Linked DNA regions of Homo sapiens: all the other regions are linked to region 2. Evidence: fine-mapped expression QTL. A gene starts in region 2. Each other region holds a variant in brackets. All regions are shown on one strand. Distances are between the middles of the regions. Region 1 has its middle 16 kb from the start of OR10K2. Region 2 holds the start of CD1E (CD1e molecule). Region 3 has its middle 19 kb from the start of OR10T2.

Region 1 (10,707 bases), 88 kb after region 2:
TCCAGAACTTGTTCATCTTGCAAATCAGAAACTCTGCACCTATTAAACAACTTCTCTTTTCCTAAGTGAAATAGAACAGCCACAAAAAGGCAAGCAAGGACTTTAACTTGTGTTTGGAAGTGGTGTGTTACACAGCAAAAGGTAAATAAAAGTATATACATGTTCTAGTATACTATTCTCTGCCAAATAGTTTTTCAAAGTGGCTGTATAAATTTACACTCATGCCAGCATTGTATGGAAATTCCAGTTGCTTCTCATCTGTAACATTTGCTATTGCAACTCATTTTTATTTGAGAAATTCTGATGAGTATGTGTAATTAGACTTTCCTTTTCATGATATTAGTGACATTGAGCACATTTTCATGTTTACCAGCCACCTGAATTTCCTCTTTCTTGAAAGTCTTGTTTGATATTTTGTGCACTATAGGGATATTCATTTTTATTATTGATCCAAAATATTTTATATGATATCAATACTTTATTGATTACATGTACTTCAAATATTTTGTGTGACTTTGTAAATTTCATTTTCACTCAGTTGAAGATGTCTTTTGATGAACATGTTTACCTATTGTTTAGCTGTCACTTATAAGTAAGAACATGTGGTATTTGACTTAGACTTTTGTTCTCTTTGACTTTTTAAACAAAAGATTACTTCTGTACTCTTTGACTTCTTGTATTTTCATATTTCGTATTCCTAGGCATAGTAATTCTTTCTGCTGACATACAGAAATAGAATTTATTTTTGTATTACCAGCTTTGTATAAGGCAATCATGTAAATACATTTCATTTTTAATTCTTATATTTATCTGCCTATTCTCATGTAATTTTGTTTTTGTATCTCTGTACTGTTTATGTATTTATTAAGGTACAATTGACAGAAATTATATATATATATATTTCATATCCAATGTGAAGTTTTGATATACAAATACATTTTTCAATAATTGGTACAATCAAACTAATCAATATACCTGTCACCTCACATAGTTACCTTTTTTTCATGTGTGTGTGGTGAGAATACTTACTGTCAACAACTTTTCAAGTATAAAATACATTATTGACCGTAGTCAACATTCTGTACATTAAAATATCTAAAGCTTATGTATCTTATAACTGAAAGTTCGTAACTTTTGACCAAAATGTTCTCATTTCCCCCACCTCCTTGCCTCTAGCAACCACCCTTCTACTCTGCTCTTATAAGTTTGAATATTTTAGATTCCACATATAAGTTAGATCATGCAGTATTTATCTTTCTTTGCTTGATTTATTGTACTTAGCAAAATGTCCTCTAGGTTCATCCACGTTGTTGTAAATGGCAGAATTTCCTTCTTTTTAAAGGCTGAATGGTATTCTATTGTATAAAAGTATATACCACATCTACTTTAGCCCTTTGTCTATTGAAGGACATTTCATTGTTTCATATCTTAACTATTGTAAATAATGTTGCAATGAACATGGGAATTCCGATCTCTCTTTGAGATAGTGATTTTATTTTCATTGGATATATACTCAGAAGTGGTACTGCTACATCATATGGTGGTTTTATTTTTAATTTTTTGAGGACATTCTATACTGTTTTCTTTAATGGCTATACCAATTTACTTTGCCACTAACAATATACAGGGGTTCCCTTTTTTTTGCATTCTTTCCAACACTTGTTATCTTTTGATTTTTTGACAATAGCCATTCTAACAGGCGTGAGGTAACATATCATTGTGGTCATCTGCATTTCCCTGATTAGTCATGTTGAACACCATTTCATATACCTTTTGGCCATTTGTTTGTCTTCTTTGGAAAAATATGTCTACTCAGATCCTTTAGCCATTTTAAAATGACATTGTTTATTTGTATTTCTGTAGAGCGATATGAGTTCCTTATGTATTTTGGATATTAACCCTGTATCAGATTTATGGATTACAAATATGTTTTCTCCTTCTGTAGTTTGCCTTTTCATCTTGTTGAGTATTTCTTTTTCTGTGTCCTTAACAAATTAAGGATAGAAGAAATGTACCTTAGTACAATATAGGTCATATATGGCAAGCTCACAGCTAACATTATACTGCATAATAAAACCTTTTCTTCTAAATCTGGAACAAGACAAGGATGTCCACTCTCGTCAGTTCTACTCAACCTAGTGCTGAAAGTCTTAGCCAGAGCAATTACGGAAGGAAAAGCAATAAAAGTCATCCAAATCAGAAATAAAGAAGTAAAATTATTTCTGTTTGAAAATTACATAGTATTATATCTAGAAAATAAAAACTTCACCAGAAAACTATTAATATCAAAAAATGAATTCAGTAAAGTTGCAAGGTACAAAATCGACATATGTAAGTCATTCTACCAAAAAGACACATGAACTTGCATGTTCATTGCCATGCTATTCACAATAGCAAAGACATGGACTAAACCTAAATGTCTATCAGTGTTGAACTGGATAAAGAAAATGTGGTACATATACACCATAGAATGCTATGCAGCCACAAATAGAAGGAAATAATATCCTTTGCATGATAGATGTCCTTTGCAACAACATAGATGCAGCTAGAAGTCATAATCCTAAGCAAATTAATTTAGGAACAGAAAACCAAATACTGCATGTTCTCTCTTATAAGTGGGAGCTAAAATATTGAACACACATGGACATAACATGGAACAATATTCACTGAGAGCTACATATCCAAACATGGGATCAATATTCACTGTAAACTACTAGAGGAGGAAGTGAAAAGGGGGGTCATGAGTTTAAAAACTTCCTATTGATTACTATGCTCACTAGCTGGGTGATGGGATCTGTACTCCAAAGCTCAGCATCACACAGTATACTCATGTAACAAACCTGCACATGTACTACATTTATCTAAAATTAAGAAAAAAGAAATGTTAAAAATCAGTTGCATTTCTGTATATTAACAGCAAACTATCTGAGAAAAAAATTAAAAATGCCATAAGAAGAATGCAATATTTAAAAATAAATTTAAGGAGATTAAAAATCTATAAACTGAAATGTATAAAACATTGATGGAAAAAATTGAGGAAGAAAAAACAAATGGAAAGACATCCTATGCTTATGGACTGGAAGAATTAATATTGTCAAAATGTCCATATTACCCAAAGTGATCTACAGATTCAATGAAACTGTTATCAAAATTCCAATGGCATTTTTCACAGAAATAGAAAAAGAATTCTAAAATTTATATGGAACCAGAAAAAGATTCTAAATAGCTAAAGAAATCTTGAGCAAAAAGAACAAAGCTGGAAGAATCACTCTTCCTGATTTCCATTTATATTATAAAGCTATAGTAGTCAAAACTGTGTGGTACTCTCATAAAAGCAGACACATTCATCACTGAAACACAATAGAAAGCCCAGAAATAAATCCAGACATCTGTGGTTAATTGATCTTTGTCAAGGGTGTGAAGAATACACAATGGGGAAAGGGCAGTCTCTTCAAAAAATGGTGCTAGGAATATGAGATCTCCACATGCAAAATAATGAAAACTGACTTTTATACTATACACAAAAAATCAACTCAAAATTGATTAAAGGCTTAAATGTCAGACTTAATTAAGGGCATAAACTGTAAAACTTCTAGAAGAAAAGATAGGGAAAAGTTCCATGACATTGGCTATGGCAGTGGTATTTTGGATACGATACCAAAAGTAAAGACAATGAAAGCAAAAATAAGAAACTGGGACTACATGGAACTAAATGGTTTCTGAACAGCAAAGAAAACAATCAGCGGTGGGGTGTGGTGGCTCACACCAGTAATCCCAGCACTTTGGGAGGCCAAGGTGGGTGGATCACCTGAGGTCAGGAGTTTGAGACCATCCAGGCCAACATGGTGAAACCTGGTCTCTACTAAAAATACAAAAATAAGCTTGGTGTGGTGTCAGGCACCTGTAATCCCAGTTACTTGGGAGGCTGAGGCAGGAGAATCACTTGAACCTGGGAGGGGGAAGTTGCTGTGAACTGAGATTGCGCCATTGCACTCCAGTCTGGGCATCAAGAGTGAAACTCTGTCTTCAAACAAAAAAAAAAAAAAAAAAAAGAAGAAGAAGAAAACAATCAGAATATTATTAGGTAATTTCTATGTTACAAACAAACTACTACTCTTTTGTGTGTTTTCCTTATATTAAGAAATAACTCTAATAAAATATTGAATAGAAGCAGAGATAATGGGCACTATTGTCTCATTGCTGATATTAATGAAAAAATTTCCTCTATTTCATCAGTAAGTTTATTTATTATAGATTTTCAAAGATACTCTCAAATTAAGACAGTTTCTACTATTTTCAGTTTTATGTTTTCTCAGTTATATTTGCATGTTTAAATTAGAGATATTTTTCTGCATGTATTGATACAATAATATTCTATATAGAATTTATAATCTGTACCTATCCACTGTATGGCCTATCATCCATCTATCTGTTGATGCATCTAGCAATCATCAAAAAGTCAATCTATTTTTCTTTTTTTTGTTTTATATATATGGTAACTTTAACATGTAAAATATATTAAGCCAAGCCACAGTTGGATAAAACCTACTTTTTCACATCAATGAATTCAATCTGACCTGTTTTGTTTTGTTTTGTTTTTGAGACAGCGTCTCTATCACCCAGGCTGGAATGCAGTGGTGCCTTCTCAGCTCACTGCCGCCTCGACCTCCTGGAACCACGTGATCCTTCCTCCTCATTGCCACCCAGTAGCTGGGATTACATGCATGTGCCACCACATTCTTTCTACAGACAGGGTTTCTCCATGTTGCCCAACCTGGTCTCAAACTCCTGGGCTCAAGTGATCCACCCACCTCCGCCTTCCGACATGCTGAGATTTCAGGCGTGAGCCATGGCACCTGGCCCAATCTGACCTCTTTAACTTAACCTACAAAAGCTCTTCCCAATAGGTTTACATTTTCTGCCTTAACTTTATTAACTTCTGTCACTCCAGAGGTCTATTTTCAGGCACATGAGACACTTAAATTTACTCATCTAGGCGATGAGTTCTTTCTTTGCATCTGTGTACACAATGCAAAGTGCCTGAAACACTCTTTAACTTCTTAGTTTTTACTTGTTTTTCAAGTTTAAATTTAAGTGTCACTTACTCTGAGAAGTCTTTCTCGATTCTCCACAATTCAGTTAGGTCCTTATACTATATTCAGCCTCTGAATCACAGTTAATTATTTATTACACCGCAATGTAATTGTCTCTATTTGTCTGCAATATTTTTCCTTTCTTTGTCTTATTTACTCTCACCGTGTCTAGTGAGTGATACATGCCAAGTAGGTAATTGTTAGATAAATAAATGAAGAAGAACATAGACTATATTAGAACATAGAATAAGTATTTTCTGTCTTCCTTTTTTAGAGATGGATCGTA[A/C]TGTGTTGCCCAGGCTGGCCTTGAACTTCTGGGCTCAAGCAACCTTTCCTGTTTGAGCCTCTGGAGTAACTGGGAGAACAGGCACAGGACACCCTACCTGCTTTAGAATAAGTCTTCAATCACTATTAAATTAAATCAGTATTAAAAGAACCATTAAAGATGCAGAAAAAAGTCCATTCAGTTTTGTGATAATTTTTATCTACAGATAAATTAGAGAACCTTGGATTACCCAACATTTATTTTCATTTATTAATTTAAAAATGATTTTGAAAGCCTAGTATACGCCAGGTGTAGCTATCATTAATATCACCATCACCATCATGGTCATCCTCAAATGCAAATTCAGTACCAGTTGTGTTATTCTCTGAAAAAAATGGCAAGCCATCTAAGCATTCAGGGTTTAAAACAAATTTATGAACACTCTCACATCTGTAGCAAACAAAGAAGTATATATATCATATGCAAATCAGAGGGAAGTACATTTTACAGATGTGTGTTTGTCTGGGTGTGTGTTGAGTAGGTGGACTTGAGGAAAAGTGGTGTTCTGGGAATTCTGAGGTGACAGGGAATGAAGATGAAAGTTGCCTCTCACTCTCTTCAGCTTAACCTTTCCTATAGTAGAAACAATCACAGAAACCCCAAACTACTCTCATCAATGGGTGGTGTCAACAAACAAAGCTCAAATCCTTGAATTAAAAAAAATCTAAAATAAATGATCGTGTCCTAATTTAGCTGTCTTAATCAAAGAAATGTCCTAAGGAGGTTTTAATAATCATATTCCGATAAACTAAGAATACATTAGCAACTCAGTTTTATCCTTGGGACACTCATTGCCAAACTATTGGGTGTGGCACGTAAAAAATGCTAAAGGTAGCATTTTTTTCCAGGTAGTAAAAAAAAATCATGTTAGCATTTAGTAAATTCAACTAAGGCTTCTATCACTCTTTTATTTATTTGTTTTCTTTTTCTCCCTTCTTTCAATCCTAGCTTTTTTTCTTCTTCCTTCTCCTTATATTCTGCATTCTAATGTCTTTCTTTATCTCTCAACATTACATATAGCATACAAATAATAATTAAAATATATCAAATACATACGTTTCAAACTGTGTGTTAATTAAGGAATTTCCCCATTTAATTCTTACAGCAACCCTATTTTGATCACTTTCAATGTATGGTGTTTAAGTTATTGTTTCATACTTACAAGTATGTGAAGAAACCTCCTTCTAAATCCACATAATCTATTTCCCAAGCAAGAGTTATTAAACTGCATGTTGCTCAAGTGAAAAGCTAAGAAATGAAATTTTTTTGATATTAACATAATTCCATTGTTTTATTGAAACACAGCTTTAGCAAAAGCCACAGTAAACTCATTCAAATGTATATGATGCACCTATATTGGGTGACTAAAATTTGACCCTTTCTTTCAGTGAGGCATGAGGAAAAGAAGGGACTGTGCTTTACTCTTCATTGTACTCACTACAGTGCTTGTTTCAATGCCTTGCATATGGTAGCAGGTGCATAAACAGTGCAGGGCTCTTGAATGGTCAACTTACTTTTACACTTTATCTGACATAGAGTCTAACCCTAGATTATAGAATAAAGAAAGGAAAATGAAAGAGAAGTAAAAACAGAAGCAATTTTTCAATACCTTCTCTCAGGCAAGCATGGAATTGTTTTACATCTATTAATTTAACTAGATTTTGCAGTGGCCCACTGAGGAGGTATTAAAGGTCCTTTGTTACATAATAAATAACTAAAAATAAAAGAAGTTAAACCTGGCACAAGGGGCTTAGCTGGAAAATGATCCAAATAAAGATTAAAATCCAGGTCTTTGTGACTCCAAAGTCTGTGTTTTCTATTCTATCATCGACCTCTTAGAACTTTACCACCACCCCCCTCATTTTTCCAGAAGCAAATTTATGTTCATTATTTAGAAACAATTTACTGCATATATTTCTTTTTAAACATATATATATATATAATATATGTGTGTATATATATGCATATGTAGATCAGGGGATAGAGAAGAATCAGGAGACATGAATAGTGACATACCCCAATTTAAAGATAACTGAAGTAATTTATCTTTATTTTTGCAAGTTATTTATATTCTTTGTATTACTATGTGCAAAGAAGGTTTGTACAGTAAAGTCAAACTATGATGTGAGCTCATCTCATTGAATATTGTCATTTTATGGAAGAACAAAATGAGGCTCAAAAAGATTAAACCATTTGCTTTAACCCATTTCCCGTTTGCCCTGAGAATTCCATAATGGCACAGAACTGCACTTTTTTTTTTCCTAAATGGGAAGTGGGTTAAACTTTATATAAATATACACACACATGTATATATATATACATTCATATATATATACACACATATGTAGGTATGTGTATGTATATATAAGTTTAATAAAGAAATAACTGCAGTAAATTATTTCTAGAATATGTTGTTTCTTTCACTGTAAAAGGAGTATCAACAATCTGGGAATTCTCAAAAAGATAATGCAGCATTTGTAGTTTTGATCTGACAAAGCAAACACTTGTAATGCATAAAAACAATGTAGCTTGTGTTATTGAAAGTTTCAATGTTCACATAATTTTCTGGAGACCAATTGGTATAACTTTTGCAGTGGATACAGGCTAACATGAAAAAAATTTTTTGATATAAACAATCAAGGTCACCTAAAGTCCTTATTTCTTTTCTTTTCTCTCTCTCTCTCTTTTTTTTTTTTTTTTTTGTCAAGGAGTCTTAAGAAAAGGACGAATCTGTTTATAGATCTGAAGTGCTACCTAGGAAACTTTCATGAATGTAATTTACTGCCTTATCAGCCCACTCATACAGTTTTGGAATTTAAGCATCTACCCAGAACCTTTCTCAGAGCCATCTTTACTTCTTTATTTCTCAGTGTATAGACAAGGGGGTTGAGTAGTGGAGTAATCACAGTATAAGTCACTGCCACGAGCCGGTCCTTATCTGAAGAGTACAGGGATGTGGGCCTCAAGTAGATAAAGGAAGCACAGCCATAGTGGACGACGACCACTGTGAGGTGGGAAGCACAGGTGGCGAAGGCTTTGCACTGTCCTTCCACTGAGGAGATCTTGAGGATGGTGGAAACTATGAAGATGTAGGAGATGAATATCAACACAAGGGGAACCAGCAATACCAGAATGCTGAGGAAAAAGATGACCATCTCCTTCAGGTTGGTGTCTGTGCAGCCCAGTTTTATGACAGGGGAAATGTCACAGAAAAAGTGGTTGATCCGATTGGAGGCACAGAGGAGCACACTGAACACCAGGATATTGACAATCACAGAAGTCAGGAAGCCACAAAAGCTGGAGGCTAGAACCAGCTGCATGCAGGTGGCTCAGCTGACAATGAGTGTGTAGTTAAGGGGGTTGCAGATGGCAACATAGCGATCGTAGCCCATCACAGCAATGAGAAAACAGTTGGTACAAGCCAAGCCCACAAATAAATAGAGCTGGACCACACATCCAGAGAAAGAAATAGTTGGAATTGCGGATAGCAGGTTGGTAAGCATTTTGGGTACAATGACCAAGGTGTAGCAGGTTTCAGAACATGAAAGGACAAAGAGGAAGAAGTACATAGGAGTGTGCAAAGCCCTGTCCAGGTGAATGACTGTCATGATGGTGGTGTTGGCCATCAGAGTGGTCAGGTAGACTAATAGGAAGATAAAGAAGAGAAGGATCTGCAGATCCCCCAGGTTTGAGAAGCCTATAAGGATGAACTCGGTGATCATGCTCTGGTTCTGTCTTTTCATTGGTCAGTGTAATTAGACTTAGGTAACCTGAAATTGAGAAGGAGAGAATTTGATAAAAGTGAAATGACCCTAGAGATACTCATTTCGCGTTTCTGTAAAAAGCTGATAATACTGGTCTGAAAAAATACATAACACACATTAAGTACATAGATCAGAGTATAGGGAAGGGTCAAGGGACATGAATAGTGACATATCCCAATTCAAAGATATCTGAAATTATTTATTTTTATTTTTGTAAGTTATTTCCATTCTCTGTATTCCTATGTGCCTAGAAAGTTCATACTGTAAAATCAAAATGTGATTTAGACCTCATCTCATTAAGTACTCTCATTTTATGGAAGAAGAAAATGAGGCTCAATAAGATTAAACCATTTGCTTACCCACATGACAGTAACAGTCCTTAAAAATCACCTATCTTTGCTAATACCTTATAAAAATCTGATTCAGAAAAACAAACAAAACAAGTAAAAAGTGATGTACCCAGTCTCTCATATACATAACTCAAATAATGCTTGTTCAGATGTAGGGAACTATTTTAATCTACTTAAAAGTATTCAGATTCTATTTACCCATGATCAATTGTGAAGACTTTGGGATGGCTCACATATTGGGGTTTCCCTTGTCATCAGTGCATGGGAATCTGAGATTAAGAACCTAATAAAGCTCAAATTAACCTCAGAGCATTATGAGGCTTGGGCTGAGATCTCCACTCTTCTGGCCTATGCCTCAATCTCCATTGCCTCCATAATGTTCTAAGAAGAACTTTCATCATTATCTGTAAGAAGATCTGTGGTTTGATTTGGAGATCAAATAAATGCTAAAACCTTCATATCAGACTTAGACAATCAGATTATTTTCATTTTGGAAAAAAGATCAGAAATCTTCTAACTCAACCTGCATACAATTCTGTGAACCTCTTTATAGCAATGTAGGAAGTATTGTCCAACGTCCACAGTCAAGGACAAATTTTAAGAAGTCACTCACTTCCAAAACAGGCTGTTGTTCCCTTGCTAGATAGTTTATTTGGCTACTTCTGAGCTGAACTATGCCTCCTTGAAATAGTCACCCATTGTTCTTGATTTGTCCTCTGCAGATACTCACAATAATGTTAAATTATTTGTATGAATGACAGCTAGCCTTTAGTTATTGAAATAAAATGATCATATATCTTTATGGGTCTTATTTTCCTTCTAACGAATTATTTAATACATAGCTTATGGCAATGTTTCTGGAATTTTCTCTGTCCTCATCACCATCTTAGGTGTGTTTGTCCTCAACATTAGGTCACGCATCTGCCCCTCAGCTGTAGACAAGCTGGTTGGCTGCAGCATCAAACATAACTAACTTTGTCTCTCTGCTTCTACACATAACATTACATTTTCTTTCCTACTTTTGTTATCCCTCAGAATTAATATTTGTCTTTCCTACAAAACCTCAACTCATTATTCATCTCCTGAGAGGCTTCCCTATGTAGCTCTCAATGACTGAATCCTGTTTGAATTCACTTCCCTGTCAGTTTGCTCTGAGATCATTTGTTAGAATGGCA
Region 2 (10,707 bases):
CGGGTTGCCACTGCTAGCTGGGGGCAGCCTGCTTTTATTCTTTTATCTGGCCCCACCCACATCCTGCTGATTGGTAGAGCCAAGTAGTCTGTTTTGACAGGGTGCTGATTGGCGAGTTTACAATCCCTGAGCTAGACACAAATGTTCTCCACGTCCCCACCAGATTAGCTAGATACAGAGTGTGGACACAAAGGTTCTCCAAGGCCCCACCAGAGTAGCTAGATACAGAGTGTTCATTGGTGCATTCACAAACCCTGAGCTAGACACAGGGTGCTGATTGGTGTGTTTACAAACCTTGAGCTAGAGACAGAATGCCAATTGGTGTATTTACAATCCCTGAGCTAGACATAAAGATTCTCCACGTTCCCACCAGACTCAGGATCCCAGCTGGCTTCACCTAGTGGATCCTGCACTGGGGCTGCAGATGGAGCTGCCTGCCAGTCCCCCGCCGTGAACCCGCACTCCTCAGCCCTTGGGTGGTTGATGGGACTGGGCGCCGTGGAGCAGGGGGCTGCGCTCATCGGGGAGGCTCCGGCCGCACAGGAGCCCATGGAGGGGGTGGGAGTCTCAGGCATGGCGGGCTGCAGGTCCCGAGCCCTGCCCCACGGGGAGGCAGCTAAGGCCTGGTGAGAAATCAAGCACAGCGCTGGTGGGCTGGCACTGCTGGGGGATCCAGTACACCCTCCGCAGCCGCTGGCCCGGGTGCTAAGTCTCTCATTGCTCGGGGCCGGCAGGGCCGGCTGGCTGCTCCGAGTGCAGGCCCGCCAAGCCCACGCCCACCCTGCACTCCAGCTGGAACCGCCCGCAGCCCAGGTTCCCGCTCGCGCCTCTCCCTCCACACCTCCCTGCAAGCTGAGGGAGCCGGCTCCGGCCTTGGCCAGCCCAGAAAGGGGCTCCTACAGTGCAGCGGCGGGCTGAAAGGCTTCTCAAGTGCTGCCAAAGTGGGAGCCCAGGCAGAGGAGGCACCGAGAGCAAGCAAGGTCTGTGAGGACTGCCAGCACGCTGTCACCTCTCAATGCCACTGCACTCCAGCCTGGGTGACAGAGTGAGAATCCGTCTCAAAAAGAAAAAAAAAAGAAAAAATGTAACTATGTGAAGTGATGGATATGGTAATAACTTGACTGTGGCGATTACTTCACAGTATATACATATATCATAACATCATGTTGTGCACCTTAAGTATACCCAATTTAAAAAAAATTAAGGTAGAATATAAATATATAATTTATCATCTTCACCATTTTAAAATGTACAGCTCAGTGGCAATAAATACTTTTTTATACTCAATTTTTATTTGTTGGTTGTACCTCACTAAAGCTGAAAAATATATTTGAATAAATGTTAAAGAAATGTAAGTATACACAAACAAGAAAATAAGTATGTAGAAATTGCAATCTTTCCTGAAAATAAGCCAAAAGAATAAAACTCGTATTTAAATTCTTTGAAAAAAAATTAGCAGATGGAACATTTTCTTACATTTGTACAAATGTACTCAAAAATTTTATTTTAAATCAATTTTAATGAGTTATCTCCCATAAATTTCTTACATAGAAAGATTAAGTTGTCCAAAGGCACATCTTATAATATGTTTTGAGAGAATTTTCTGGTTTTGGCAAAAGGGGATCTGCGAATGTGACTGGGGCAGCCTCAGGAAAACATAAGAGGGGGAATTTCTTTTTAAAAGAGACCTCTGGCCACAGACACTAAGTATTTTTAGTAAAAAATGTGGTTAGGCACTGATGGAATATTTTTTTTTTTTTTTTTTTTGAGACGGAGTCTTTCTCTGTTGCCCAGGCTGGAGTGCAGTGGCACAATCTTGGCTCACTGCAACCTCTGCCTCCCAGGTTCAAGCGATTCTCTTGCCTCAGCTTCTCGAATAGCTGGGACCATAGGCACGTGCCACCACGCCCTGCTAATTTTTTTGTATTTTTAGTAGAGAGGGGTTTCACCGTGTTAGCCAGGATGGTCTCGATCTCCTGACCTCCTGATCTGCCTGCCTCGGCCTCCCAAAGTGCTGGGATTACAGGAGTGAGCCACTGTGCCTGGCCCACTGATGGAATTTTGTAAAGCAGGAAGGAAATAATTGTACCATATAATGTTACAAAAATTAAAATTAATATATATTTTTTCTTTGGAATTTATCTTCTGGATAATTTTAATTTAGAAGGAATTTCATTATTTTGTTAATGATTATGGGGTTGCTGTCAGACATTATTTCTACTTTGCTCAGTAATTTGCAGTTATCTGTGAGTTCTGTAGCCTCAAAATTAAAAACTAGGGTGTGGTTATCTTTACTTACATAAAAGTGCAATTTTTTGTGGAATAACAACATTGTTTTATTCTCTAAATATACTTTGCTTTATTTTACTTTGCAAATGATTTTAAAATTCTCCCTCTTTTTTTTTTTTTTGAAACAGAGTCACACTCTCCTGCCCAGGATGTAGTACAGTGGCACAATCTCAGTTCCCTGCAATCTCCACCTCCTAGGCTCAAGCAATTCTCCTGCCTCAGCCTCCTGAGTAGCTGGAATTACAGGCACACATCATGGCACCTGGCTAATTTTTACTTTTTTTGGTAGAGACAGGGTTTCGCCATGTTGGCAAGGCTGGTCTCGAATTCGCCTGCCTTGGCTTCCCAAAGTGCTGGGATTACGGGTGTGAGCCACCGTGCCTGGCCTGATTCAAAAATTCTAATGGCCGGGGCACGGTTGCTCACGCCTGTAATCTCAGCACTTTGGGAGGCCGAGGCGGGTGGATCACGAGGTCAGGAGATCGAGACCGTCTTGGTCAACATGAAGAAACCCTGTCTCTACTAAAAATACAAAAAATAGATGGTCATGGTGGCTCTTGCCTGTAATCCCAGCTGCTCAGGAGGCTGAGGCAGGAGAGTCGTTTGAACCAGGGATTCGGGGGTTGCAATGAGCCGAGATCCTGTGGCTGCACTGCAGCCTGGGCAACAGAGCAAGACAGCAAGACTCCGTCTCAGGAAAAAACAAAACAAAACAAAAATTCTAAGGAATACAGTTACTTGTAGTATTGATGTTTGGCATAGGTCATTCCAATCTTTTTATTATGTATTATTGTTTTTGTAGGTTATTATATATTCTCTTGAATATTTATCTTTGTTTACTGTTCATAATTTTATTATGAAACCAATTTTGGATTTACATAGCGATTTATAGATAGATTTACATAGCAACTTATAGCTTTGAATGTATTTGTAGAAAAGAAAGAGTATTGAAAATAAATGTAGACATTCTACTCAGGAAACAAGGAAACTTTTTTTAATCTTTCTTTAACCTTAGAATTTAGAAATGATAATAAGATGAAACTAGGTTTGGACCTTTTTCTTTTGTTTTTTTGTTTGCAGTTTTTTTTTCTTTTTTTAATTATTTTTATTTATTTATTTATTTTTTATTATTATACTTTAAGTTCTAGGGTACATGTGCACAACGTGAAGGTTTGTTACATATGTATACATGTGTCGTGTTGGTGTGCTGCACCCATTAACTCGTCATTTACATTAGGTATATCTCTTAATGCTATCCCTCCCCCCTCCCCCCACCCCACAACAGGCCCCGGTGTGTGATGTTCCTCTTCCTGTGTCCATGTGTTCTCATTGTTCAATTCCCACCTATGAGTGAGAACATGCGGTGTTTGGTTTTTTGTCCTTGTGATAGTTTGCTGAGAATGATGGTTTCCAGCTTCATCCATGTCCCTACAAAGGACATGAACTCATCATTTTTTATGGCTGCATAGTATTTCATGGTGTATATGTGCCACATTTTCTTAATCCAGTCTATCATTGTTGGACATTTGGGTTGGTTCCAAGTCTTTGTTATTGTGAATAGTGCCACAATAAACATACGTGTGCATGTGTCTTTATAGCAACATGATTTATAATCCTTTGTGTATATACCCAGTAATGGGATGGCTGGGTCAAATGGTATTTCTAGTTCTAGATCCCTGAGGAATCGCCACCCTGACTTCCACAATGGTTGAACTAGTTTACAGTCCCACCAACAGTGTAAAAGTGTTCCTATTTCTCCACATCCTCTCCAGCACCTCTCCAGCACAGAAAGAGTATTGAAAATAAATGTAGATATTCTACTCAGGAAACAAGGAAACTTTTTATCTTTCTTTTAACTTAGAATTTAGAAATGATAATAAGATGAAACTAGGTTTGGACCTTTTTCAATAATTCTGACCACCGTTCAGTAAATTTACTGTATAAGAAAAGTAGAGGTTTGGGGTTGAATTTTGTTTTATTTTTTCCCAAAGATGTCTATCTCTGATATCTTAGGGCCTGGCAATTGTTTTTGGTCATAGGTGGGCTCTGAATAAATGTCAGTTGAACAAATATATAAAAACCAAACAAAGGAATGTTATTTCAACTGCCTTCAGAGTGTCACAACAAATATCAATGAAAAAGAAACAAAAATAAAGACTCAATTAATTCTCCAGTGAACACTTCAGTCCTCTAAAGGTACTTCCCTGTGTCCACCCAAACTGCTCTCTAACCGAACGCAAGCAAGGGGACTCCAATGCTCTCAGGCCATGAACTAATGAGGAGCTTCATGCCTGCCCTCAGTCTTTCTTCATACCCAGGGCAAAGCTGGCCCACAGACTTCCAGACATGCTTTCTTCGTTTGGGTAGAGATGGGGATCCAAGTCCCCTATGTATTTCCTCCAGAGCCACCTGTAAAACATGGGTGAAATCTACCTGCCCTCTAGCTCACCACTTCCAGGTCAAGCCCACTCATGGACCACTTTAACAGTGACAGTTGGCTTGACTGGGGAAACTGAAAAAAAGGAGCTTTCTTTAGATTTTCTGATAATCTGCATTGCCATTGCTGCTCCTTTTTCAGCAGCACAGAGAGTTGGATTATGGAGGGTTGCCTGCTTATTATGCAGCTACATCCAGGATGCTGAGTGTCTTCTGATCATGATCAAGAGCAGAGTGAAGAGATACAGGCGGAGGAGAGGATCACAGAGAGGTAGAAGTGGGAGACTGGTGGATAGGTCACTAGGCACCACTGAGTGACTACCATCACTTCTCACAGATTAGATTATTGACAAGCCAAGTATGGATTTGATTTCTACAAGGCCAAAAGCTACTCCATCTTCTAGCCAGACCACAGACTTTGTTTTAAGCCAGGACTCGTTTTCCAGCAGTTAGTGCAATTAGGGAGGTTGGGAGGATGTACACAAGAGCAGGGAGAAAATCTGGAGCCAGACAGTGAGAGAGGCAGAGGGGAAATGAAAAACCCCGTGGGAGGCTGCAGCAAAGCGAGGCAGTGTGGCTTCTCTGACAGGGAAGTCAGCAGAGGGAGAGGTTTGTCTGTCTGTACAGCAAGGGAAGTCAGACGAGAGTGCAAGAGGGTGTGGAGAGGGGTACTGATATCTGAATTATTAGGGCAGGTGTCCTGCCAAGGAATCCCTCCTTTAACAGAGCTTCAATGCTGCTCCTGTTCCTCCTCTTCGAGGGTCTCTGCTGTCCTGGGGAAAATACAGCAGGTAAGAAGAGTGCAGGTGGAAAGATACCTATGGTAGGGCACCAGAGGGCTGAGAGGAAGCTCTGGGGAGGTCCTGGGGGAAGGGAGCAGTACTCTTCTAGGATGCCCTTGGAATATGCCTTTCAGGCTAGTTCCAGGCAGAGAATTCTTGCTCTCAGTCTCAGTTTTTGTCTCTGATTTTGGAGAAAGGAAGCTGGCCCCACAGGAAAAGGGTATTGGAGTATGTACAAGCTACCTAACTGTCTCTCATCTCTGGGTTCCTTTTTTCCCTTTGGCATCACTTTTCCCATCCCTTTACATTCTCTCTACTTGTCATTTCCCTCTCTCTCAGCTCCCCAGGCTCTACAATCCTATCATCTAGCAGCAGAGGAGCAGCTGTCCTTCCGCATGCTCCAAACTTCCTCCTTTGCCAACCACAGCTGGGCACACAGTGAGGGCTCAGGATGGCTGGGTGACCTGCAGACTCATGGCTGGGACACTGTCTTGGGCACCATCCGCTTTCTGAAGCCCTGGTCCCATGGAAACTTCAGCAAGCAGGAGCTGAAAAACTTACAGTCACTGTTCCAGTTATACTTCCATAGTTTTATCCAGATAGTGCAAGCTTCTGCTGGTCAATTTCAGCTTGAATGTAAGTTCGTTGCTCTAAGCTGATAATTTGCCTGGGAACACCAACTATTTTCCAAAGTGGAAGATAGTATATAGACTCTGACCATCATTTAACCTTACTAACCTTGTTCCCCACTCTCTGACTCCCACTCCCTCCTCTGCTTCACCCTTCACCACCACCCACACTCCACCATATACACAAAAGGGCCTGCATGTACATATCTCAACATGAATATAGCTTCATGTCTGGCTCTTTGGAATGATTGTCTCCTCTGGATCTTCTGCCCCTCATTCCTGCCCTCAGACTCAGCCTTTCTCAACCCTCTTTCTGCCCTTCTTTATCCTTTGCCTGAGTGTTGACATGGACTGGCCTGTACCTAACCACTTTCACGTGAATTATTTATGACCAATCTCCTATCTTCCTGATAGCCTTCCCATCTACCACTTTCCCATTAGTTATTTCAAAGTATCTTTATTATCTTCAAATTTTCTTCCCACAAATTTTCTTCCCCTTTGCCAGTAAACTCTAGTCTCCATATGATTTCCCAGCAAATTTTTCTTCCCTTGAATCTCTTTACTGTCTAAATTGTTTGTTTTTCTTCCTTGTCATTCTTTCCATAATGATCTCTCTTCCCTGTCCACTCTCAGACCCCTTCGAGATCCAGATATTAGCTGGCTGTAGAATGAATGCCCCACAAATCTTCTTAAATATGGCATATCAAGGGTCAGATTTCCTGAGTTTCCAAGGAATTTCCTGGGAGCCATCTCCAGGAGCAGGGATCCGGGCCCAGAACATCTGTAAAGTGCTCAATCGCTACCTAGATATTAAGGAAATACTGCAAAGCCTTCTTGGTCACACCTGCCCTCGATTTCTAGCGGGGCTCATGGAAGCAGGGGAGTCAGAACTGAAACGGAAAGGTGAGCCCAACTCTCTCTCTCCCCTCTTGTTCCTAGTACTATAACTCTCATATTTGAATTTGCCTCTCATCATCATTTTGAAAGACATAGTGAGAGACTAGAGAATGAGATGTGTGGGTTCAGGACTGTTTCTTAGACAAGAGAAAGAAGTGATTACTAAATCACTCTTAGTATTATTACAAAGGCACCTGAGTCTCTGAGCTCTGGCCTGGGGTGCCCTTCAAAATTCCATTTTTTTTCTATCTTCTTCTTCCTAGTGAAGCCAGAGGCCTGGCTGTCCTGTGGCCCCAGTCCTGGCCCTGGCCGTCTGCAGCTTGTGTGCCATGTCTCAGGATTCTACCCAAAGCCCGTGTGGGTGATGTGGATGCGGGGTGAGCAGGAGCAGCGGGGCACTCAGCGAGGGGACGTCCTGCCTAATGCTGACGAGACATGGTATCTCCGAGCAACCCTGGATGTGGCGGCTGGGGAGGCAGCTGGCCTGTCCTGTCGGGTGAAACACAGCAGTCTAGGGGGCCATGATCTAATCATCCATTGGGGTGAGAAACAGCTGAGGCTCTGCTGGGAAATAATGAAAATAGCCCTGGGGCTTTTGAGTGTGGGGCTGAGGAAATGGGTAGGAATGCTAGGTACAAGAAGGGTAAAACTGGGACAATCAAAATAAAGAAGGATAGAGTATGACAGTAGTTAAATTTTAAGAAAATGGAAGTAGAGAATTAGACATACTAACAGAAAAAGGAGGAGGAACTAGTGATTTAGTGGGAGAGGGTTGGGAGGAGATCACAGACAAAGGATCAGGAGGAATTGAAATGAGGGCTTTGGAAAACCCAGATGAAAATTCTAGGAAGGTCCCACCCTTGTGAAATGGGAAATCTCAGCTTGGTGGAATAGAGTATTTTAGGGTTGGTATTCTTATTCTATCCCCAACCAGGTGGATATTCCATCTTTCTCATCCTGATCTGTTTGACTGTGATAGTTACCCTGGTCATATTGGTTGTAGTTGACTCACGGTTAAAAAAACAGAGGTGAGCTTTTTCTTGTTCTTTGTTTCTTCAGCCTGTAATCAATTCATTCCTTTTTCCTCTATCTTCTTTTTTTTTTTCTCTGCCTTTCCCCTTTATTTCCTTTCTTTGAGATTAATATCCTCCTCTTTTCCCACAGTTCAAATAAGAACATTCTTTCTCCCCACACACCCAGCCCTGTCTTTCTCATGGGAGCCAACACTCAGGACACCAAGAATTCAAGACATCAGTTCTGCTTGGCACAAGTATCGTGGATCAAAAACAGAGTATTGAAGAAGTGGAAGACACGCCTAAACCAACTCTGGTGACATTTGCTTTACCTTATACATAAAATCCTTGTCTGCATCTTCTTAAACACCGTCCATGTCCCATAAGGGAAGCATGCTTTTATTTAAACAGTTTATACTAGCAAAGATACTGACCCCTTTAGGAATACTTTTTCCCCATCTTCCAGAGATTTTTTTTTTCCTGCTTTGGCTACATATCCATCATTGTTTATTTTTGAAACTATAATCCAGATACTTCTTTTTCATGGATTCCCGAGATCACCCAATTGATAGCTCTTCTGTACTCCCCAAATTGAACTGATCTTCACAAGCACATTCATCTCTTCCTACTCTGAACAGTAGTTATTTAGGTTTTTGCTCTTTTTTTTTTTTTAATCTCAGTTGCTTGAAAGTAGGATTTAGGTATTTGTGTCTGTATTCATGACCAAAAATCTTATCTGAATTCAGGGCCAGCTTCATAAGCATGTGACCTGTGCAGACACATGGAATCGTATGCTCTGCAAGAACCCATGCTAGATTTAATGCTCTGCTGTTGTCATCTTGGAATCCTTAGTCATTTTCAAACAAGAGATATTGTATTTTCATTTTTCACTGACCCCACAAATTATATAGCTGATTCAGTGTGAATGTAATATTTCTCAATAAATGCTGACTGAAATAAATTTGTTGTTAGATCAAGTGATGTTGTTTTACTCCATTCCCTCTCTGATATCTCTGCGTCATTTGACTGTGCTCTTGCTAAAACTCTTCCTCTCTCCCTTTGTCTCTCACCAGAGGTGAAGGAGGCAGATGAATGCCTCAGACTCCACAGTGATTGGAATGTTAATGAATCTTCAGGGATATTTAGGAAAATAATAACATAAGGGCTATCTCCTGTCAAAGTGAGGAGAGGTTTGAACTGGCATTCCTACTTCCCTGAGCCATGTGTATCTATGTGTGTCTTTGTGGATGTGCATATTCATGGGAGAAATTCATATTTTGAGCAATTAGAAGGAGGACATAGGGTTTGAGCCAGAGCTAAGGCAATGAAGCAAAAGAGTGATTGGATGCCAGTTAAGCTACATGCTTGTTTTTATTTATTAGTGTGGCTTATTATTGTTATTATTATTTACAGTTTGTTTTTCTTTAGTTTTTATATGGATTCTTACATTTACATAATTTACTTCATTTGAGATACATTTGGTTGAGCCTACTGGAGAGCAGGAATCTGGTAGAAGTGCAGTGTTTATATACATGTCCAGTCAACCCCTCCCTTGGATGGAATAATTGAGCAGATTGTGCATATTTCTTTTCTTTTTTTTTGAGATGGAGTCTCGATCTGTTGGCCAGGCTGGAGTGCAGTGGCTGGTGTCAGATCACTGCAAGCTCCACCTCCGGGGTTCATGCCGTTCTCCTGCCTCAGCCTCCCCAGTAGCTGGGACTACAGGCGCCTGTCACCACTCCCGGCTATTTTTTTTTTAATTTTTAGTAGAGACGGGGTTTCGCCATGTTAGCCAGGATGGTCTTGATCTCCTGACCTCGTGATCCACCCCCCTTGGCCTCCCAAAGTGCTGGGATTACAGGCGTGAGCCACCGCGCCCAGCCGGTTGTGCAGATTTTTTAGTGGAAGTTATAAACTTCATGCTGGGCATTTTCAAGTAATCAGCAAGGGTCCCATGATCACACATCCAGGCTGCACTCTTACTCATGAACAAGGTATGAGGCCAGCCTTTTCACTGTTGAGAGTCCATCACCTTCCATATGGCACATCCAATCAGTCTATCTAGAGTCAGGCCACTAGAATCGGGAGAGGAAGGTAGAATCTTAAAGGGTTGTTTGGAGCAACAAATGATGAAAGGGGTCAGGGTTCCATCACGTGGTATAACTCTACAGGGGAGGACCTCTATTAGAATGAAGAGGTTCAAGTAGGAACCTTTCCGTTTTTGGCACAAGGTGTGCGAAAGGCACAAGCTATACCTCTGGAGACAATAGATCTGGGCTGCCTGCACATATACATCCTTCTTCCCCATAAAATGACATAGAAGGATTAAAAAAAGAGCCAGAGGACAAATAATCATGTTATAAGAAGTATCAGCTCAACAGGACTTGAGGAAGTTTAAATATCAGTCCATAATAGTGTCAGAAAAGCTCTAGGTCTTCCCTGTACTGTGGTAAACCTTTGGGCTGGGTATTTTCATTATAACTCCTGGATGATGGTGTACTTAGGAGCAAAATATGTTGCTAAATTGCCCCCAAGACAGAGATGTTACCTAATACTATTAACAACTTCATTCTGGCTGAAACTCTGGGACATGGGACTTATTCTAGAAGACCAGTGTAGTTTTTTTCAATAGCTAAGTATACCAATTTCCATTCCCACCAG
Region 3 (10,707 bases), 27 kb after region 2:
GAGAGATTTAGTGCAATACAATAATAGTGAAAACTTCAACCCCTGACTCTCAGCATTAAATATATCATATAGCAAGAAAATCAACAAAGAAACAATAGCTTTACATCAGACTTTAGGCCAATGGGCCTAAGAGATGTTTACAGAACAGGTCACCTGACTGCTGCAGAATACAGGTTCTTTTCATTAGCACATGGAATATTCTCCATGGTAGACCATATATTAGACCACAAAACAAGTCTCAACAAATTAAAAATAATCAAAATTATATCAAGCATCTTCTCATGCCACGTTGGAATGAAACCAGAAATCAATACTAAGATAAGCTTTGGAAACTATACAAATACACGAAAATTAAAGAACATGCTCCTGAATGACCACTGGGTCAATGAATAAATTAACATGGAAATAAAAAAATTTCTTGAAATAACTGAAAATGGAAACAGAACATACCAAAACCTGTGGGGCACAGCAAAAGTAGTATTGAGGGAAGTTTATAGCAAGAAATGTCCAAATCAAAAGAGTAGAAATATTACAAATTAATCAAGCAACACAACACAGAGAACTAAAAAAGATCTAATTAAACCCCAAATTAGCAGAACAAAAATAATAGAGATTAAAGCAAAATAAAATCAAATAGAGGCTGCCCAAAATACAGAAGACCAATGAAATGAAAAATTGCTTCTTTGAAAAGATAAGCAAAATGGGTAAACCACTAGATAGACTAACCAGGAAAAGAAGAGAGAAGATTCAAAGAAACAAAATCAAAAATGAAAATGGAGACATTAAAATGAATATCACAAAAATACAAAAGATCATCAGAGATTATTATGAACATCTATATGCTGACAAACAGGAAAACCTAGAGGAAATAGAGAATTCCTGGAAATACACAGGCAACTGAGATTGAATCAGGAAGAAATAGTAAACCAGAGTAGATCAATAATGAGTAGTAGATTGAATCAGGAATAAAAGATCTTCCAACAAAGAAAAACTGAATTGCATGGATTCGCAGCTGAATTGTGCCAAATGTAAAAAGAAGAACTAAAACCAATTTCTGCCATTATTCCAAAAAATTGAAGAGGAGAGAATTCTCCCTAGTCATTCAATGAGGCCAGCATCTCCCTGATACCCAAACTAGAAAAGGATACAACAAAAAACAAAACTATAGACCAATATCTCTAATGAACATAGTCATAAAAATTCTCAAGAACAAAACTAGCAAACAAAACTCAATAGCACATCCAAAAGGTAATCAAAAGTGGGTAATAAATTCCACTGCTATCAAGTGGGATTTATATCAGAGATGCAAAGTTAGTTCAACATACACAACTGAATAAACATGATACAACATATCAACAAACTGAAAACCATACAATCATCCCAGTAGATACAGAGAAATCATATGATAAAATTCAACACTCTTTTATGATAGAAACTCTCTACAAACCAAGCATAGAAGGAACTACCCCAAAATAATAAAAGCCGTATATGACAAACTCACAGGTAACATCATATTGAATGAAGAAAAGTTGAAAACATTCCAAGAACTTGAACAAGACAATGATGCCCATTTTCACAACTCCTATTCAACGTAGTACTAGAGGCCCTAGCCAGAGAAAATCAGGCAAGGAAAAGAAGTAAAAGGTATTCAAAATGGAAAAGAGGAAGTCAAATTGTTTCTCTTTGCTCTTAATATGATCTTATATCTGGAAAAACTTAAAGACTCCACCAAGAAACTCATTAGTTTGGTAAATACATTCAGTAATAACGCAGGATACAAAATGAAGATATGAAATTAGTAGCATTTCTATGCACCAATAATGATTTAACCAAGAAAGAAATCAAGAAAGCCACCCCATTTACAATAGCTAGAAAAACAATGAAATACTTAACAAATAACTTTAGCCAAGAAGGTGAAAGATCTCTACAGTGAAAACTCTAAAACGCTAATGAAAGAAATTGTAGGTGACACAAACAAATTGAAAAATATCCTATTTTCACATATCAGAAGGATTAATATCCTTAAAATAACCATATTGCCCCAAATAATCTACAGATTCAATGCAATCTTTGTGAAAATACAAATGTCATTCTTTATAGTATCAGAGAAAACAATCCTAACATTCATATGGATCCAAAAAAGAGCCTAAATTGCTGAAGCAAGCCTGACTGGAGGCATCACATTATGTGACTTCAAAATGTATCACAAGGCTATCATAATGAAAAACAGCATGAAATTTTTATAAATATATAAACACAGACCAGTGGAGCTAATAAAAAAACTCAGAACTAAAGGCATATGTTAATAGCAAACTAATCTTCTACAAACCTGACAAGAACTTACATTGGGGAAAAGACACCCTATTCAATAAATGGTGCTGAGAAAATTGGATAGCCACATGTGGAAAAATAAAACTGGATCACTGTCTCTCATCTTATTAAAACAACTCAAGATGGGGATTAAAGACTTAAACATAAACCCCAAAACTATAAAAATACTAGAGAAAACTCTCCTGTACATTGGTTTAGGCAAATAATTTATCACTAAGACCTTAAATGCACAGGTGACAAAAATAAAAATAGACACATGGGACTATATTAAACTAAAGAGATTCTGCATAGAAAAAGAAATAACAAAGTGTAGAGACAATCTGTTAAATGGGAGAAAATATTTGCAATCTACTCATCTGGCAGGGGACTAATATCCAGAATATACAAGGAACTCAAACAACTCAACAGGCAAAAGAAAATAATCTCATGAAAAAGTGGGCAAAGAACATGAATAGACATTTTTCAAAAGAAGACATACAAATGGGTAACAGGATTTGAAAAAAAAGTTTAACATCACCAATCACCAGAAAAATGCAAATCAAAACCGCAGTGGACACAATCTTATCCCATTCAGAATTGCTATTATTAAGAAGTAAAACAAACAAATAAAAAACAGATGTTGACAAAGATATGGAGAAAAAGGAACTCTCATATACTGCTGGTGGGAATGTAAACTAGCACTCGAGCTATGAAAACAATATGAAGATTTCTCAAAAAATAACAATAGAATTACTGTTCGATCTAGAAATCCCACTATGGGTATCTACCCAGAGGAATAGAAACCAATATATCAAAGGGATACATGAACTTGCATGTTTCTTGCAGCATTATTCACAATAGCTAAGATATGGAATCAACCTAAACATCCATCAATGGATGAATGGATAAAGAAAATGTGATATGTATACACAAAATGGAATACTGTTTGGCCCTGAAAAAGAATGATATTATGTCATTTGCAGCAAGATGGATGGAACTGGAGATCATCCTAAGTGAAATAATTCAGGCACAAAAAGACAAATATCACATGTTATCACTTATATCACTTATATCACTAAAAAATTTGATCACATTGAGATGGAGAGGGGAAAGATTGATGAGAGACTAGGAAGGGTGAGCTGGAGGAAGAAGCAGGATAAAGGGAGGAGTTCTAAAGGGTGCAAACATAACAGTAAGATAGAAGAAACAAATTCAATGTTTGATGGCAGGGTAGAGTGCTTATACTTAACATTTTTGTAACAAAAATGCTATAAAAATGTTTTATATTCAGGTGATCAACACCCTAAATACAAAACCTGTGGGGGACAGCAAAAGTAGTGTTGAGAGAAGTTTATAGCAAGAAATGTCTAAATCAAAAGAGTAGAAATATTACAAATTAATCAAGCAACACAACACAAAGAACCAAAAGAGATCTAATTAAACCCTAAATTAGCAGAACAAAAATAATAGAGATTAAAGCAAAATAAAATCAAATAGAGGCTGCCCAAAATACAGAAGACCATACAAATGGCTAATATGATTTGAAAAAAATGCTCAATGTCACTAATCACCAGATAAATGCAAATCAAAACCGTAATGGACACAATCTTATCCCATTCAGAATGGCTATTATTAAAAAGTAAAACAAACAAATAAACAAAAACAGATGTTGACAAAGATATGGAAAAAAAGGAACTCTCATATACTGCTGGTGGGAATGTAAACTAGCACGCACACTATGAAAACAATATGAAGATTTCTCAAAAAATAAAAATAAAATTACTGTTTGACCTAGAAATCCCACTACTGGGTATCTACTCAGAGGAATAGAAACTAATATGTCAAAGGGATACCTGAACTTGCATGTTTATTGCAGCATTATTCACAATAGCTAAGATATGGAATCAACCTAAACATCCATCAATGGACTTGATTACTATGCATTCTATACATGTAACAAAATTTCACATGTACCTCATACATATGTAGAAACAAAAAATATGGTGGCTAGATTTACAATTCTAAAATAATCATCGCCCAATCAGTGTATCCCTCACCCAGGAAATAAACTTTTCGTGTCTGGATTAATCTCTTAGCTACATGGAACTTTATTCTAAAATAATTTTTATCTCATAGAAAGTTGCCTATCATCTTGATTCGGAAAACATAACAGCTTTCTCTCTTAATTTCTCTATCTAAATTTGCCTGAAATTAGTAAATGTTTGAAGTGAACCGTGCCAGAAATGTAGACTTATATATGTGTTCTT[CTTTGAAAACATTG/C]TTGAGGGCTGCTTAATTTTGAATTAGGGGTAGGGATTCTCAACTTTCCATTTAAAAGGTGATCATTTGGAATAAAAGAAAACTGTTTATTTGGTCCTCACCTTGGTCTTGTTTTAAGAAATAGTATAACTCTCTGTAGGTCTTTATTTGCTTATTCATAAAATAAGGCCACCTGGTACATTATCTTTATCTTACAAACAAATACAAACAAAAAAAAAAACCCTTTCATTTTTCTGAGAGTAGAAATACAGGCCCTATGAACATGTGGTATTTATGCTGCGGTAAAAAAGCCATGCAATGTTTTTACTGTCAAGATACTGGGTTAATCTCTAATAATCCAGTTGTTGCTTCTGATTGGGTGCCAAATGTTTTGTTAGAAATTGTAGAGGGATTACAGAAAGGAGATAAGAAATCTCTGAGATCTAGAGACCTGAACCACATTACCAACCAACTTGACCTAGTTGACATAAACCTTCAATCTAACAACAGCAGAAAGCATAATCTTTTCAATAGCACAAGGAACATCACCAAGAAAGTCTATATTCCGAGTCATTAAACAAACCTTAATATATTTAAAAGGATTGAAATCATATGAAGAATGTTCTGTCACCATAATACAATTAAGCAAGAACACAAAAATAGGAAATGTTCTGGAAAACTCCATATATTTGGAAATGCAAATAACCGCTGAGTCAAAGAAAATTAAAATAAAAACTGGAAAGTATTTTGAGTTAGAAGAAATTGAAAATACAACATATACAATTTGTGAGATGCAGTTAATGCAATGCACAGAGCACAAATTATAGCTTTAAATAATTAAAATTTTAAAAAGCAATGTGTAAAATTAATAAGCTAAGCTTCTACCTTAAATAACTGGAAAAAAGAAGAACATATTAAATCCAAAACAAGTGGAAAGAAAAAAATAACAACAGGGGAAATAAATGAGTTAAAGATGTAAAAAATTAGAAAAGAATTATTTAAATCAAAAGATAACTCTTTTGAAAAATCATTAATACAGTTACATCTCTATCCAGGCAAAAAAGAGAAGACACAAGTTACTAATATCAGGAATGAAAGGGAGGAGATTGTACTATTCATGCAGATTTCATAAATATGATAAAAGTAATAAAACAACTTTATGCTGGTAAGTTCAGCAACTTAGATTAAAGAAATTTATTAAAAGAAACAACCTAGAGTCACTCAAAAATATATAGATAATCTACATAACCTTATATATCTTTGAAAAACGTGAATTTATAATTGAAATACCTAACACAATGAAACTATATGTCCAGATGGCTTTATTGTTGAATTCTACTAAATGTATAAGAAGAAATAATGCTAATTCATCACAATGTTTTCCAAAACGATAGAAGCGTAAAGAAAATTAAGATGAGTCATAGACTTAAGGGTAATAGATGAAATTATAAACTTTCTAAAGGAAAACATAGAAAAATTCGAGTGACTGAGTTAAGCAAAGATTTTTTTAGATAGTACACAAAAAAATAAGAGCCATTAAAATTTGATCTTCAGAAAACACTATTGAGAAGCAGAAAATGCAGAGCAGGGATGGGGAGAAAATATTTGTAAAACATATATATCTCATAAAGGATTAGTGGCCGAGGAATATTCTTTAAAAAACTCCTATATCTCGATAACAGGAAAAACAATTCAATAACAAAAACAGAGCAAAATATTTGAATACACTTTTTATCAAAGAAGATATGTAAGTGGCTCATAAGTTCATGAAAAGATGCTCATCATCATTAGTCAAATGCTAATTGAAACCACAATGAGGCATTACTACACAACCGCTAGAATGCTTAAAATAATAATAATAAAAAAACCCTGAAAGTACTGTCTTAGTGCAGGCTGCTACAACAAATAATCAAATACTGGGTGGCTTACAAAATATAGAAATTTATCTCCCAGAGTTCTAGAGACTGGAATTTCCAGATCCGAGTAGCAGCCTAGTCAGGTTCTGGTGAGGGTCCTCTTCTTTGCTGCAGACTGCCATCTTCTTGTAGTATCTTCACATAGTGTAATACTACGTGAGAGGGGCTCTGGTGGTCCCCTTTATAAGGACACTAATCTTGTTAATGAGGGCTCCACTCTTACGACCTAATTCCCTCCCAAAGGCCCCAGCTCCTAACACCATCACATTGAAGGTTAGGATTTCAAAATACAAACTTTGGGAAGAGACAAAAATTCAGTCTATTGAAGCACCAAGTGTTGAAGAGGATGTGGAACAAAAGGAGCTTTTGTACATCACTGATAAAATTGCAAAACGGTACAGCTATTTTTGAAACAGTTTTGAAAACAGTTTGGTAGTATTTTACAAAGTTAAACATACCTAGTACGTTATTGATTGATTTATTGTAAATGTGAATACATGTAACCTAGTAATCTCATTCCTAGTTATTTACTTAAGAGAAATAAAGACAATTTTCTTCACAAAGACTTGTATGTGAATATTCTCAGCAGCCTTATTTATAAGAGCCCCAAACTGGGAGCAATCCAAATGTCCTTTGACTGGTGAATTCAGAAATAAATTGTGTCATAATCATACAATAGAGTACTTCTCAGCCATAAAAAGATGGGGGAAAAAACGCTATTAATATACTCAACAAAATGGATGACTAACAAGAGCATTATGCTAAGTGAAATAACTCAGACACAAGACTGCATAATGTATTTCTATACTGCAATGCATATTTTTATTTATATGAAATTATAAAAAAAGACATGTTATAGTGACAGAAGATTAGTGCTTGCCTGGGGTCATGGATGGGGGAAAGGTTTGAGTGCTAAGTGTGCATGGAAACTTTTGGAGTGATGAAATTGAAATATCTTGAATGTGGTGTTGGTTACATGACTGTATCCACTTGTGAAAATTTGATCTTTACATTTAAAATGAATGAATTTGAATTTTATGTATTATTGCTAGCAATTCAAAAGAGTAGTTGGACTCTCAAAGTTAGACAAAGATCCCTTTCTTCTGGGTGAATTCCGCCCGTCTACTTAATAAGCAGATGTGATTATTCAATATTTGGGTAGGTGCAAATTAAGATTGATTTACAATAAAAATGTATCTGAAGAAAATTAAAAGGTATTACCTGTGCAATATTTTGAAGAATTTTTCTTCTCCTTTGTGTTTAGTGAGTGTATGATATTCTACTTTATTGTCATATAATTTATTTAAAATATATCCTGTTGTTATATTTAGTGTAGTATTGTTTGAAATTTACTTTAAAATATTTTACGTAGCACATCGTATTTGTAAATTAATCTTGAATTTACAACATAGAGACAGCTGTTCACCAAGTCAATCATTCTATTAAGGAATACTTCCAGCAGCTGTTAGTTAGCATTTTTAAACACCCTATTGAGGAGCTCCCATTCAAGAGGAAGATTAGGAAATGGCAAGAACTTTAAATATTGCTACCTAAATCTATACTAGATAATACATTGTTCTGCATCAAAGATGCTTGAAATAATTTTTAATATGTGAAATCACAGGTATATCAAAGTCTGAAGTCTAAAGATATCTACTCATACTTGTGGGATGCTGTAGGAGAATTAGAGAAGCCCAGGAACCTAACATCCTTCAGAATACTGCCCAAGGCTTAGGATTATTTTAGTTCCATATTTTACTATATAACAGGCTCTGTCTTCTAACCTGACCAGAGTTTGACTGACTATCAAGGATACTATATTGTCATATCTGCCTGGAGAGAACCCTTTAAACAGAGAACATAATAGAAAATTTACATATATTGACTTAAACAAAATATGTGTCCATTTCCTTCCATGAAAAAGATACATTCAGAGAGGGGCAGTTTATAACTTGTAGGACAGCTTTATGACATTTTTAGGGCTCAGGTTTATGATATTTTATTTTCTGAGAGACTTAACATGTGAATTCCTTCTCATGGTTTAAAAGAGACCACTGGTGTTTTGGCCATCACATCCACATTTTAGTTAGGGAGGTAGAGAAGATAAATATTATTCCCCCACCGCCACCACTTTAAAGACATTTTCTGGGGCATATGACATTTTCACTTACATTCCACACTTACAAGACATCTTAGTTACATTCTAGCTGCAAAGGAGCTGGGGAGTATCTTTATTTAGGTTAATCATTTGCCCATTAAAAATTGAGGATTTCCTTTACTAAGAAAGATAATAAATGGGACATTTTAGGACCAACTAGAAATCTAAGCCCTGATACATTATAACACAGAGTTATTTTAAAAAAGAACTTTAAACAAATGCAAATTAGAATCGAATTTTCTTATCATTGGTAAATGTTATAAACAAAAACTTATAGAAAAGGCCATATTTATTAAAGATTCTTTATATACCTATCATTCAATATTAAGAACTAGACAAGAATGGTTATTATTTTACTATTAACTCTAATATACCATTGAAAATCCTATGAAATATTTGGAGACAAGAAAAACAAGTGAAATATAAAGATTTGAAGAGAAATTAAAATGTTCATTATTATAGGACAGTATCGTCATTTGAAAGTTGTCAAATACAAGTAGTGGATAAACTATTGGCACTAAAATAATTCAGTAAATTTGTTGGACACTAAATGAACAAACAAAAGTGAAGTGCATTTCTTTATGTAATTAACTATTAATAGAAAGTAAAATCCAATATGGATATTACAAAAAGTAGCAATACAAACTATAAATTATCTAGAGATTAATTTAATAAATATTTTTTAATCACTATTAAATAATTATTGTCATATAAAAATATCTTAAATGGAAAAAATGGTTCACATTTTTGGATGACTGAATTTAATGTTATAAAAAGACTGACTTCCCTAAATTTCAGGTGACCAGTGTATGTGTGTGCTTGTGTGTAGGTGCTACTTGAAAATGTTAAGCCTAATTTGAAAAAGAAGACATAGTGAGCAAAGTTACTCTGTAAGGTACAAAGGATACTGCAAAGAAATGGCAATATAAAAAATGGAACGTCAAGCAGTGAAGAGCATCAGGAATCTGTGCTTTATAGTATTCAATGACATCCCATTCTGGCGTGGCCAGGGGAAATATAGTGCTACCTAAATTCCTAAAATTTAACTTTATTCATAGAAAAATATTCTAAAGGAAATACTGAACTTTCAGAAGAAAAAACCTGAGATAATTTTGGAGTTGAATTTGTGGGTAAAATAGCAAATTTTTTTTCTTTTTTTTTTATTATACTTTAAGTTTTAGGGTACATATGCATAACGTGCAGGTTAGTTACATATGTATACATATGCCATGTTGGTGTGCTGCACCCATTAACTCCATTAACTCGTCATTTAACATTAGGTATATGTCCTAATGCTATCCTCCCCCTGCCCCCCACCCCACAACAGGCCCCAGTGTGTGATGTTCCCCTTACTGTGTCCATGTGTTCTCATTGTTCAATTCCCACCTATGAGTGAGAACGTGCAGTGTTTGGTTTTCTGTTCTTGCAATAGTTTCCTGAGAATGATGGTTTCCAGCTTCATCCATGTCCCTACAAGGGACATGAACTCATCATTTTTTATGGCTGCATGGTATTCCATGGTGTATATGTGCCACATTTTCTTAATCCAGTCTATCATTGTTGGACATTTGGCTTGGTTCCAAGTCTTTGCTATTCTGAATAGTGCCACAATAAACACACGTGTGCATGTGTCTTTATAGCAGCATGATTTATAATCCTTTGGATATATACCCAGTAATGGGATGGCTGGGTCAAATGGCATTTCTAGTTCTAGATCCCTGAGGAATCGCCACACTGACTTCCACAAGTTTACAGTCCCACCAACAGTGTAAAATGTTCCTATTTCTCCACATCCTCTCCAGCACCTGTTGTTTCCTGACTTTTTAATGATTACCATTCTAACTGGTGTGAGATGGTATCTCACTGTGGTTTGGATTGGCATTTCTCTGATGGCCAGTGATCATGAGCATTTTTTCATGTGTCTTTTGGCTGCATAAACGTCTTCTTTTGAGAAGTGTCTGTTCATATACTTCACCCACTTGTTGATGGGGTTTTTTTTGTTGTAAATTTGTTTGAGTTCATTGTCGATTCTGGATATTAGCCCTTTGTCAGATGAGTAGATTA

What was found. PIP is the estimated chance that this variant, and not a neighbour inherited with it, causes the effect.
Region 1: its variant is the best candidate, but not a certain one, in a credible set for the expression of CD1E in whole blood (INTERVAL, PIP 0.68).
Region 3: its variant is the best candidate, but not a certain one, in a credible set for the expression of CD1E in T cells (TOPMed, PIP 0.51).

The regions. Positions count from the first base shown.
Region 1 is chr1:158,436,854-158,447,560 of GRCh38, forward strand. It overlaps the pseudogene OR10T1P. Among named protein-coding and RNA genes, the nearest start is that of OR10K2, 16 kb to the left of the region's middle. The variant A/C (reference allele first, on the strand shown) is at 5,380.
Region 2 is chr1:158,348,531-158,359,237 of GRCh38, forward strand. It overlaps CD1E (CD1e molecule), which reads left to right and starts at 5,364. Exons shown (of 6, transcript NM_030893.4): 1 at 5,364-5,516; 2 at 5,847-6,143; 3 at 6,770-7,039; 4 at 7,297-7,575; 5 at 7,968-8,061; 6 at 8,198-9,023. The coding sequence starts at 5,459. The coding sequence ends at 8,366.
Region 3 is chr1:158,375,569-158,386,275 of GRCh38, forward strand. No RefSeq gene overlaps it. Among named protein-coding and RNA genes, the nearest start is that of OR10T2, 19 kb to the right of the region's middle. The variant CTTTGAAAACATTG/C (reference allele first, on the strand shown) is at 4,578.